3 separate regions of the Homo sapiens genome follow, and all the other regions are linked to region 3. Evidence: fine-mapped expression QTL. A gene starts in region 3. Each other region holds a variant in brackets. All regions are shown on one strand. Distances are between the middles of the regions.

Region 1 (4,181 bases), 88 kb before region 3:
AATCTGCCGAGGGCCCAGCCCTCTGTCACTCCACTACCTTCTCACTGACATTGCCCACTGCAAGTCCTCAGACTTGACCAAAGAATATAGCCCATCCAGGCGCTGAGGATATATCTTCTGACCCTCAAGGGTCTGGTTTGAGAAATAGACAAAAACAAACAAACAAAAAAAAAAAACAACAAAACAAAAAACTGAGATTTTCCTCTGTACAAATATATAGTGGCAGACTACACTGCAGACTTAAGGAACAGCCCCCTATGAGCACAGTTGTGTACCCATTTGAGATACACTGATTTAGACCAACTCAACCTTTATGAGGCCCAAAGCCAGCTAAGCTTTCTCTCCTTTTCCTTCCATCGAGATCAGCAGATCAGCTTCAGTCAGGTGCCTTGTGGCAGAGCGTGGATCCCACATGGGGTCCTTAGAATACTACTTCCCTATGGCTCCCAGGCACCTCGTTGGTGTCTGTATCTCTCTCTGTGTCTGTGTGTGTGCATATCTGGGGGTGTCTGCAGATGTCTGATGTGTATCCTGGGGGTGTGTGTGTGCATGCATGTCTGTGTGTCTGTCTGTCCATGCACACATACACTTGCCCAGGAGACTAAGGGATGCTGACCAGGAGAAGGCAGCCACCAAGCTGGAGGTGAAGTCAGGTGGACAGGAGCTGGGACATCTAAACCCTAGATCTGGCCCCTGTCCCATGTCCATAGTAACCCCCTCACCCACTCTCCTTCTCAAGTGGATCAGGGGCTATTTACAACACTCCTCCCCTGTCTCTCTGGGTATATGTATGTGCAGTTTCCTCTTGCTGAAATGCCCTTCATTTCCTCTCTCCTCCTGGAAAATGCCTGTCTATCCTTGTGTGAGGGTTCAGAGGCTCAGAAACCCCTTCTCTGGGAGGGACTCTCCTATCTGCCACCCCTTAACCAGCTCCCACTGTGCCTCTTCCCTCATCTGGCACATTAAATTATTACTTGCAAAATAGGCACAGTGGTTCATGCCTGTAGTCTCAGAACTTTGGGAGGCCAAGGTGGGAGAACTGCTTGAGGGTCAGAAGTTCAAGACCACCCTGGGCAATGTAGTGAGACCCCCATCTCTACAAAAAAAAAAAAAAAAAAAAAAACTTAGCCAGGCATGGTGATGCGTGCCTGCAGTCCCAGCTACCTGAGGCAGGAGGATCGCTTGAGTCCAGGAGTTTGAAGCTGCAGTGAGTTATGATTGCACCACTGCACCTCAGTCTGGGTGACAGAGACCCTGATGCAATCAATCAATCGATTATAAATCAATCAATAATAAATAAATAATTGCTTACTCAATTACCGGGTGCCCCCAAACCATAAGCTGTTGAGGACAAGGAGTGATCTGATTTGACATTGCTTCTGCACACAGAAGAGGGCCAGGCATGTAGCAGATGCTCAATAAATGCATGCTGAAAACATGGATGGAGAATGATGGGGCATGATGAGGAAGAGGCAGAAAATGGGAAGGAAGTATAGGATCAAGATGGGGGCATCCTAAGGAGGGGTAAGAGACTAATTGGTTTGTATGGGAAAGACTGGGCAGTGGGGAAGACAATGGGGAGAACGGGGTTGAGGGGGTGGAGAAGAAGGTGGGAGA[CA/C]GTGCCCACCTGGGGAGGCCAGGTCCCACTCTGCCTCTGGAGTCTCTGCAGTTCCTCCTCTTTAAATTTCAGGGCAACTGCCAGCCGGTGCCAGCGTGCCTTCCAATATTCAGCCATCTCCTCATGAAGCCTGGGATGTGATTCTTGTGCCTCTAGCTCTTTCCTGAGGGGCACTGGTACCTCCAGGACCTGGAGTGTACTGGAAGAAATGGTGCAGTCCAGGTACAGCATGGACCCCAGATCACCCCCACCCCACTCCCTTTCAGTGATTATTGTCTTATGAACTAGGAGGGGGAGTGGGGCAGAGATGCCTCTTTCATGGCTCCCTGCACACACAGAACCCCTTTGTACTGGGCACTTCTACTCCCAAGGACCCTGACTTGCACCCAGCAGCTAAGGTCATCTCACCCCCACCTCCCACCTGCCCCTGGGCCAGCAGGAGGGGCTTGGCCATATGTAGGCGAGACAGGACTTCTTGAAGCTGAAAGATTTCCCACCCCATAAAAGAGCCAGAATGTGACAACCAGGAGCGCTGATACCTGGGGAAGGGAGACTGGCTCTGGTCGTGTGATTCCGGGTTTAGGGCTCTGGGCCATTCCCCCTCAGCCAGCTGGTGACAGAGACTGGCCCACCGCCTGCTGAGAGGGCCATCTCACCTACAGTGAGAACAGAGCCCCCACCCCAGCCTGGCTTGGACACTCTGAGGATGGGCCCAAGCAGCCACCTACCAGGACTCTTGGCCCGGGGCCACACCCAGTGCTGCTAGCAGCCCCACCTTCTCCTGAAGTAGCCAGGTGTGCTCTGCCTCCAGGGCCTGCAATGGCCCCCCAACACCATCTGCTCTCCCTGCAGATGCTGCAGCTGCTCCAAGCAGGCCCCTAGTTGCTGGTGGCTCTGGCCCAGCTCTTCTGAGTCTCTTGTTCACCTGGGGAGATCCCCACCCCACCGAGTTGTGGCTCAGCCTCCACCAGGGTTGTGGAGCTCCAGCCTTTACCCATGCAGCCCCTCCTCAGAGGCCCCGAACTCCACTTCCTCTGGGTCTCAGCCCTTCCAGGAGGCCTCTCTGACCACCCCAGCCCGCAGAGGCTTCTCTACACTCCAGGCTACGACTCTGGACCAGTGCCTGGCTGCACACTAGCAGGGGGGCCAGTTATGTGAAGATGAGGATGGTGCTCTCTGGAGTGTCACTGTGTGGACGCCCTGCTAGAATCTCTCTCTCCTGGTCATTCTCCTTTCCTCTGTGCCCCTAGAGCCCCTTGCCCTACATTGGAATCCCCCAGGAATGGGGCCCAGGCTCCCTTGCCTCTGCCCCCTGGTACAGATGGGCATGGCCTGGATCAGCTAATGCCCAGATTCCCTTTCCTGTGGGGCTGCCCCTGCCAGCTGTCTTGACCAACCTCAGTGAGTATCAGCAACTGCTCCTGCAGACGGACTGTGTCCTGAGCCTGGGCAGGGGTCTCAGCTGCTGGCATGGAGACTCTGGGTCCCGAAGCTCCTGGGCCCTGCCTCCATCCCAGCTCTGCTCTTGGATCTGCAGGCCTGGCACCAGCATCTCCTGTAGATACACTTGGTCCAGAATCCTGGGGTCTCCTTCCAGCTTCCAGACCACACTGGGGTGGTCTTGGCAGACCGTTGATGCCTCAGGGCATGTTGTGGCAGGGTCCTGGCCCCAACTCAAGTTATGACTCTGAACAAGCTCTCCTCTGCTCTCTGGTCTCAGTTTTCCCATCTGAACCAGGAGGGAAGTCACTGAATGATCCCAGGGTATTCCCAAATGTTGGAAGAGGATCCCTCTCTTGGCTGGACTAAGCCCCTGCGCTGCCTTCCTTCTCTAGATAATGCTTCAATAATGAGGACCAGAGAATAAAGTGTGGGGCAGAGTCAAAGGTACAGCAGGGCCAGTGCGCAGGGCCTGCCATGCACCCACTTGGGGGATCCCCAGGCTGGGCTCTGGGCCAACAGGCTGTTGGGTCATTTGGTCCAAATGCCGCTAGGCCTTTTCCACTTCTGTCTGCAGCAGCAGGATCCTGTGGGTAGAAGGGATGGTCTGCCTGTTCCCTGCCACCCCACCCCTCCCCCACAGCCCAGCCCCACTCACTTGTCTTCTATGTTCTGGTCTGGCCTCCTCCACTCAGCCTGTCCCTGGGATCCCTGCATCTGGTGCCTCTCCTGCTCCAGGCAGGCCAGGGAGCACTCCACCTGCTAGGAGGAGGCTGAGTGGGAGGGCTGAAGGCAGCACAGAGCCTCAGATAGGTAGGGCTAGCTTCCCTGCCTCCCACCAGGCAGGGCAGTGTCTGCAGCCTTTGATAACGCAGGCGGACTGGCAGCCAGCAGCCCAGCTGACAGCCCAACATGGACCCATGCCCTGGCTTATATACAAGGGACTGTGCCCTGGGGCCCTGAGGGGCTGCTTTTGGCTGTTATCTATCACGACAGGCTCCAGCTGTGCATCTCTACCTCCAGCTGGGCCCGAGATACACCGCCTCTCCAGCTGCTCTCCAGCTGCTGACAGCTTCAGGGTGGAGGCCAGCAGGACTGCTGTGGCATGCTAAAGGGCAGGCAG
Region 2 (4,181 bases), 100 kb before region 3:
GCCCTTCTCTCCCCACCCAAGATCCGCTTTCCCATCCTTGGGCTTGGCTCCAGCAGTGGTACCAATACCAGTAGCCCTCGGATATCCCCAGCAACCACTCTCAGGAAAGGTCAGCAGGGCTCCTGGGGGAGAAGGAAGAAAGGGAGGAAGGGATGCCAGTTCCCTGTGTTCAAGACTGGGGTTTTGGGGCAAGAGGGTCAATTGTGGATTGGTCCAGCTCCAGTTCCTTTGCAGGTGATGGAGCCCCAGTGACAACAGTGCCTGTGCCAAATCGTCTGGCTGTGCCCGTGACCTTGGCAAGCCAGCAGGCTGGTACTCGGACCGCCGCACTGGAGCAGCTGCGGGAGCGGCTGGAGTCAGGGGAGCCTGCTGAGAAGAAGGCATCGAGGCTGTCTGAGGAGGAGCAGCGCCTGGTGCAGCAGGCCTTCCAGCGCAACTTTTTCAGCATGGCACGGCAGCTCCCCATGAAGATCAGGATCAACGGCAGGGGTGAGCCAGGCTCAGGGCCGGGCCTTCCCTTCCTGGAAACCCCAAGCCCATTCACGCCTCCTGGGACTGGTGGGGCAGGGGTGGTGAGGCACATACTCCTGACCTGGAAGAGGCCCCTCCAGGTTCTGCCTTCCAGGCCCCTAGAAGAGAGGCACTGAGATCTTAGTTCACCAAGCTGAGGTTGTTTGGTAGAGGGGACCACATGTTGCCTCAGGCAGTGCCCTGTTCTCTAGTAAGAGGGAAAAGCAGTTATTCACAGAGGAGGAGCCAGAGGCCTTCAGAGAGCTGCTGCGTTTCCCCACCAGCCATTACCCCAGCACCTCACTGGATGTAGGCAAGAGCAGGGCACCGTCTGCAGGTCTGGGAGGAAGACACCCCATGTTCCTGAGGCTCAGCGAGGGGCCAAGTTGCCCCGGGCTGGACAGTGGGACTCAGGAATATAGACAGAAGGAGGAAACACAAGTTTGGCAGCATAATTGACATCCTTTCCCTTCCTCTTCACATTGTTCTGGTGCCCCACATTCTCTTCCTCAAGCCACACGCCCCTTTTCCCATTCACACACATTCTTTCCCATTCTGGTCCTGATGCTATCTCAAAGCAAACATGAATGAGATGTGTGGGAAGGAGCCAGGTGTGAAGGGAGCTATACATATTCCCAGGCTGCCCCTCCTACCCCATTGCCCTTGGGGACCAGAAGGAAACTGGGAGGTAACAGCTCATCCAGGGCCAGGTACCCTGCTCCTGCACAAAGCAAAGGGCTGTTAGAAAAGACAGCTCACCGGGAAGAATTCTGAGTCTGGGGTGAGCCAGCCAAAGGCCGTGTGTGCCAGCACTTGCAGGCTTCCACAAACGCCAGCTGCCTGGGTGGTCATGGAGGGGAGGGGCTGAGGGCGTAGACTCCTCTCTCTGAGGGACTCAGAGTCAAAGGAAAGAAAGGGCAGGTGGGTCCTCAAAGTTGGGGCTGGGTCTCATTGATCTCTGATTTCCTGGGCCTGGTGTATAGTGTAGTTCAGGGTTTGCCCGTCACTTGGAAAGTGCCAGTGCAGAGTGGTGGGGCCGGAGCCGGCCTCCTTGCCTACTGTGATTCCTTTTCTCTGGGAGCAGAGGTAGTTGAGGGGATGAACTGGGTCAGTGGAAAAAGCCAGCAACAGGAGATTGGCGAGCCTGGGATCTCCTGCCATACCCTACACTCAGGAGAAGGTTACATAGATGCCTTTTAACAGCGTGAGGCTTTGACCAGGGGTGGCCAGGCAGCATCAGAGAGGACAACAGGAGTGCTGTGGAAGGCTTGACCAGGCCCACTGTCTCCCTGTCCCCAGCAGAAGACAGAGCAGAGGCCTCGGCTGCAGCACTGAACCTGACCACGAGTAGCATTGGGAGCATTAACATGTCTGTGGACATCGATGGCACCACCTATGCAGGTGAGGCCCTGGAGCTCTGGGGGAGGCCCACGTGGCCGCAGCTAGCCACAGGGCAGCTCTGCGGCTGGCCCTGCCTCTTACCCTCTGTCTGAACACCTCCCACAGTGGCTTCCTTTTTCCTGGTCTCAGAGTTGCAAAGGTCAAGTGGTCCTCTGGACTAGTAGACTGTGGATTGTTAACAGGATGATAGGTCCCTCCCACTTTGGCAGAAACCCTTCACCTAACCCTTTTAGACCAGTGGTTGGCTCGTTAATTGAAGAAGTCAGTCAGTGTCCCACAATCCCCAGGTCTTCTCATGCACAGCCTTTCTCTGACTGTAATTCAGCTCTTCTCTTCCTTTTGCAGACTGAGACACAGGCAAAGGAACCCC[A/G]GTATAGGAGAATCAGCTTACATTGTTAAGCTCCCTGCCCCCCAGTCTTTTACAGTTATCTTTTCCTAAACCTAATTTGGCAACAGTGTTTTGTTGGTTGGTTGATTTCGCACCTTTACAGAGTCTTTCTAAGGGTTTAACTTAGTATTCATGACTGGGCACGGTGGCTGATGCCTGTAATCCTTGCACTTTGGGAGGCTGAGGCAAGAGGACCACTTGAGCCCAGGAGTTTGAGACCAGCCTGAGCAACATAGCAAAATCCCAAATCTACAAAATACAAAAAAAAATAGCCAGGCATGGTGGTGCACACCTGTGGTCCCAGCTACTTGGGAGGCTGAGGCCAGGAGGATCACTTGAGCCCAGGAGGTCGAGGCTGCAGTAAGCCGTGATTGTACCACTGCATTCCAGCCTGAGTGACAAAGCAAGACCTTGTCTCAATTAAAAAAAAAAAAAACAAAACTTAATATTCATAAAAACAGCAGTCCTTTTCCCATTCCCATTTCATTGGTTTACGGACGAGCTTGGGAACAAGCCCACCTGACTCTTGTTAAGCACAGCATTGCTGGGCGCGGTGGCTCACGCCTGTAATCCCAGCATTTTGGGAGGCCAAGGCGGGTGGATCACGAAGTCAGGATATCGAGACCATCCTGGCTAACACAGTGAAACCCCGTCTCTACTAAAAATACAAAAAGTTAGCCAGGCGTGGGGGCGGGTGCCTGTAGTCCCAGCTACTCGGGAGGCTGAGGCAGGAGAATGGCGTGAACCTGGGAGGCAGAGCTTGCAGTGAGCTGAGATCGCGCCACTGCACTCCAGCCTGGGCGACAGAGTGAGACTCCGTCTCAAAAAAAAAAAGCACAGTATTATGAGTGGGGGCCACCAGGCCTGGCCCAGGGCATCACCCACCTGTTTTACCAAGGGCCCAAGGGCATGCGGAGTGTCAGCCAGCCTGGCAAGGTGTCTCGTGGAGACAGGCGAAAGCCCTACAACTGCACCTTCTATCACAACTGGGAGTGTTTCCTCAGGGCCTACTCCCATTCTAAGGGCCACACTCCCTCAGAGCACCGCCCTGCAGGCCTCCTGGGAGCATGCTCTGGATCTCTGCTGGGCCACTCACTTCAGAGAGAGGACAGAGTGTAGAGGAGCAGTGGTGCCAAGTGGGCTCACCAGTCATGCTATGTCTGCAGACTCTGCTCAGAGGTCTCTACCTGTCACAGGAGGCCCCTGGAGGAGGTGGGGCCTGGTGCCCTTTGCCTCTTCATTGTGCTGTGGTTTGGGAGGGTTGGGGGTTGGAATTAGGTCCATGGAGAAAGCAGGGAAGTAGGAATTCAAGGCCTGGATCTTGATATCCTTTTGTCCTCTGTCAAGGAGAAAGGAGAAGGTAACTCCTTCCCTCTCAGAATGAGGAAGGGTCAGAAGTTGAAGGCTCCTCAAACCCCTGACAAGAAGGGAGCCAGTCACCCACCCCACCTGGCTCTGTCACCCAGGCTGGAGTGCATTGGTGCGGTCATAGCTCACTGCAGCTTCAACCTCCTGGGCTCAAGTGATCCTCCTGCCTCAGCCCCCTGAGTAGCTGGGACTACCCATGCCCAGCTAATTTTAAAAAAAATTTTTATAGAGACAAGGCTCTTGCTGTATTGCCCAGTCTGGTCTCAAACTCCTGGCCTTGAGCTATTCTCCTGCCTCACCCTCCCAAAGTGCTGGGATTATAGTTGTGAGCCACCACACCTGGCCTTGGTGTTCCTCTTTGTGTACCCTGGGTACACCTTGTCTCAGAGCATTTATGACATTTTAGCAAAATTACTCTGTCGACCTATCTGTCCCCCTCCCCAGCCCATCAGCACTTCAAGGCAGGACAGCATTTGGATCTTCTCCCATCACCCCCTAGCACAGTGTCTACAGC
Region 3 (4,181 bases):
GCTATGTTGCCCAGGCTGGCCTTAAGCAATCCTCCCACCACTGCACTCGGCCCTAGTCTAATATTTTTCTTTTCTTTTCTTTTTTTGAGAAGTTTAGTTCTTGTTGCCCAGGCTGGAGTGCAGTAGCATATCTTGGCTCACTGCAACCTCTCCCTCCCAGGTTCAAGCGTTTCTCCTGCCTCAGCCTCCCAAATAGCTGGGATTATAGGCACCCACCACCACCCAGCTAAGTTTTGTATTTTTAGTACATACGGGGTTTCACCACGTTGCCCAGACTGGTCTCCAACTCCTGACCTCAGGTGATCCACCCGCCTCAGCATCCCAAAGTGCTGGGATTACTGGCGTGAGCCACAGTGCCCGGCCTTAATATTTTTCAAACTATACGTCATGACCTATTAGGGGTCAGACTCAATTTAGTGAGTTGCAACCAATATTTTTTTAGAGTGCATCTTCTGTAGAAAGGGTAAGTAAACTTTTCATTGGTGTGTGTGTGTGTGTACACACTGAGTGTGCAGGGGCACAATAAGTCATGATGTATAATATATCTAACTGTGGGTCACAGGTAAAAAATTTTGAGACACTTTTCTAGCCCCACAGCCCTATGCCAAGGAGGCTCTACCAAGAAATTGGTAATAAACAAAATGTCATGTTTTTACATCATACAGAGAAACTAGCTAAGAGGATTTTGTGCTCAGTACACGTAATCTGCCATTCATTAAAAAAAAAAAAAAAGATTAGGATCCATCTGGGTGTCCAGTTGAAATACTAAACTGCTTGGAGACAGCCATTTCTGTTTTGGTGGGGTGAAGACCTGTATTTGAGACAGCAGACTGAAATCGGTTTGGTCTGTGGCGAAGGAAGAGAAGAAAAACCATTCTGGGTCGCGAGTTCCTCACCTGTAACCACAGGAGAAGACTGTTGGCTTGGTCAGTTGATTTTCAACTAATCTCCCAATTGAAGAGTTAGGCGAAGCAATTGCTATTGGGAGATTAACTGAAAATTAACTGACCAAGCCAACAAGGACTATGCCTCCCACAAACCAAAACACTTTAACCACTCAGCAAGTCAAGTATTGATACATACAATCAATATCACACAAAGTGTACTGAAAAGAACCACAGACTTGCATCAAAGGCAGAAATGAATCCAGGGATAACTTCCTGGGATTCGAAGATGTGACCTGGTAGGTATAAATTTCTCAGGCATCCTCTTTTTCTACCCTCCAGTTCATCTCCGTCCTCAAGCTATCAGTCATGGATGTGGCACTGGCGTTCTTCTCTGCCACCGTATCTCATTATGCAAAGGGAAACTGAGGCACGAAGAACAGAGTGAGTGAGCCAAAGAACTGCAGCAGCCACCAACAAGGCTGGACTAAGGGCCCAAGCAGCTAATGCCTCACTCCCCACACAATCCCCATACTATTTAGAATCCTGCAGTCCTCAGCCTTCCACCTCAAACCAAACTCCTGGGGCCGCCCGTAGTACGTGGTCCCCTGCTCATCCGATGAAGCCCCCAGCTCTTGCCTGCCTGCCTGCCTCTATAAAGGTCTACGAGGCCTGGAACTCTGAAGCCTAAAGCAACCCCGGCAGCCCCCTCCCACGACCGTCCACAAACCAGTAGCCTCCCTTCGCTCCCACCTCCGCGCCGACGGGCCTGGAGCTCCTCCGCACACCACACCAAGCCGACCACTCAACACCAGAGGACCCACAGAAGAATTCTCTCCACGCCCACCCCCACAGCATCGGCCTTCACCACCGCCGCCGCTGCCGGAAGCGCCCCCACGTCTCCACGCCACCACCGTGAGGTCACTTCCGGCGCGACACCTTGGAATCCAGGGCCGTCAATTGAGGGGCGTGGCACCCGGGAAATTTAAGAGGTTGGAAGAACGTCCCTTCGGCCTTACAGAATTGCGCTTGGGTAGTCATTTTGCCCTCCACGCTTACTTATGTCCTGTGGCGTCTTGGCTGGAATCGGGGCTCTACCCACGACTCCCCAGCCTCGATGCCTGGGCCCCCCTCTTGCAGGCTCGATGAAAAGCACCCGCTTCCCCTCCTGTTACCCCAGCGCCAATCGCAGAGCTGGAGCGGAGGACTTTCAGGGAGGCCTGGTGACGTGACAGCCCCTCCGTGCTAAACTGCAGCTGTGGGACTTAATAAGTGCGACAACCCCCTGATGGATTAAAGAAAACAAGATATTCCTGCCGTGGTCGATCTTCAAAGCGTATCAGCTTCAGCCCTTTTGGGGGTTAAAATCAGCCAGTCCGTGCTTGACTGCTCTCCCTTCCCCCATACTCAGTACACAGGAAAGTGCCGCTCTTCTACCCCTGGCATTTTAGAGTCTTGATTTGTGGGGAGACGGGAAAGCATGCGTTTAGGGCCAAGACCGTGTAATGAGGAATATTGCACAGCCTTGAAGCCTGACACCTGGTTTGGGAACCACTACTTGGGCGAATAGCATAGAGTAGGGTAGCAGTTCCAAACCTAGCTCTACAAAATCAGTTGAAGAACTTTGTAAAATCTACACTTTCTAGGGGACTGCTTCACCCTTCCCCCTCCATCACCAGAGATTCCCTAGGTCAGAAGGGGTCCTTGTCTTTTAAAATTACTGTTATTAATGAACACTTATAGAGCAGTTTTTGGTTCAGGGCAAAACTGAACAGAAAGTACAGAGTTCCCATATATCCCCTGTACACACAGGCACATACACAACTTGTCCCCTCATGGACATCTTGTGCTACAGTGGTACATTTGGTAACAATTGATTACCCAACTTTGACACATCATTATCACCCAGAGTCCATAGTTTACATTAGAGTTTACTCTCGGTGTTGCACATTCTGTGGGTTTTGACATATATGTAATGACATGTATCCACCATTATGGTATCATACACGATAGTTTCACTGCCCTGAAAATCCTCTGTCCTCTGCCTATTTATCCTTCTCAGTCCCCTAACCACTGGCAACCACTGCTCCTTTTACTGTCTCCATAGTTTTGCCTTTTCCAGAATCCCATATAGTTGGAATCATACAGTATGCAGCCTTTTCACATCGGATTCTTTCACTTATGCACTTAAAGTTCTTCCATGTCTTTTCATGGCTTGATAGCTCATTTCTTTTTTGTGCTGAATAATAATATTCCATCGTCTGGATGTGCTGCGGTTTATCCATTCACCTACTGAAAGACATCTTGGTGGCCTCCAAGTTTGGGTAATTATGAATAAAGCCGCTATACATCATGTGCAGATTTTTGTGTAGACATGAGTTTTCAATTCATCTGGGTAAATACCAAGGAGTGCAACTGCTGGATTGGATGGTATATTTAGTTTTGGGAGAAACTACCAAACTGCCTTTCAAAGTGGCTGCATCATTTTGCATTCCCACAGCAGTGAATGAGGGTTTCTGTTGCTCCACATCCTTGTCAGCGTTTTGTGGTGTCAGTATTTTGCCGTTCAAGTAAGTGTGTAGTAGTATCTTATTGTTTTAATATGCAATTCCCTAATGACATATGATATTGAACATCTTTTCATATACTTACTTGCCATGTGTATATCTTCTTTGATGAAGTGTTCATTCAGGTATTTTGCCCATTTTTACATTGTGTTATTTTCTTGTTGTGATTTAAGAGTTCTGGGTATATTGTAGATAACAGTCCTCTATCAGATACGTCTTTTATAATATTTTCTCCTAGTCTGTGGCTTGTCTTCTCATTCTTCTTTTGAAGAGCAGAAGTTTTAAATTTTAATGAAGTCCAGCTTATCAATTATATTTTTCACAGATTATGCTATTGGTATTGCCCTAAAGTCATTGCCATTCCCAAGATCAGTTAGGTTTTCTCCTGTGTTGTCTTCCAGGAGTTTTATAGTGTTCCATTTTACATTTAGGTCTACAATCCATTCTGAGTTAATTTTTATGAAGGGTGCAAGGTCTTTGCCTAGATAATTTTTTTTTTTTTTTTGAGACGGAGTCTCACTCTGTTGCCCAGGCTGGAGTGCAGTGGCACGATCTCAGCTCACTGCAATGTCTGCCTCCTGGGTTCAAGTGATTCTCCTGTCTCAGCCTCCCAAGTAGCTGGGATTACAGGCACCCGCCACCACACCTGGCTAGTTTTTGTATTTTTAGTAGAGGCAAGGTTTCACCATGTTGGCCAGGCTGGTCTCGAACTCCTGATCTCAATTGATCT

The links.
Region 1: its variant is fine-mapped to the expression of EDC3 in whole blood (TOPMed, PIP 0.99).
Region 2: its variant is fine-mapped to the expression of EDC3 in whole blood (TOPMed, PIP 0.98).

What each region holds. Positions count from the first base shown.
Region 1 is chr15:74,606,587-74,610,767 of GRCh38, forward strand. CLK3-AS1 (CLK3 antisense RNA 1) reads right to left here. Exons shown (of 9, transcript XR_007064715.1): 2 at 3,717-3,817; 3 at 3,016-3,645; 4 at 1,628-2,543; 5 at 1,313-1,429. It also overlaps a transcript of CLK3 not described here. Among named protein-coding and RNA genes, the nearest start is that of CLK3-AS1, 7.1 kb to the right of the region's middle. The variant CA/C (reference allele first, on the strand shown) is at 1,618.
Region 2 is chr15:74,591,326-74,595,506 of GRCh38, forward strand. It overlaps ARID3B (AT-rich interaction domain 3B), which reads left to right. Exons shown (of 9, transcript NM_006465.4): 6 at 1-109; 7 at 235-489; 8 at 1,813-1,911. Among named protein-coding and RNA genes, the nearest start is that of CLK3-AS1, 22 kb to the right of the region's middle. RefSeq lists an enhancer at 3,191-3,691. The variant A/G (reference allele first, on the strand shown) is at 2,282.
Region 3 is chr15:74,694,243-74,698,423 of GRCh38, forward strand. EDC3 (enhancer of mRNA decapping 3) reads right to left here and starts at 1,782. Exons shown (of 7, transcript NM_025083.5): 1 at 1,638-1,782. RefSeq lists an enhancer at 1,742-1,831.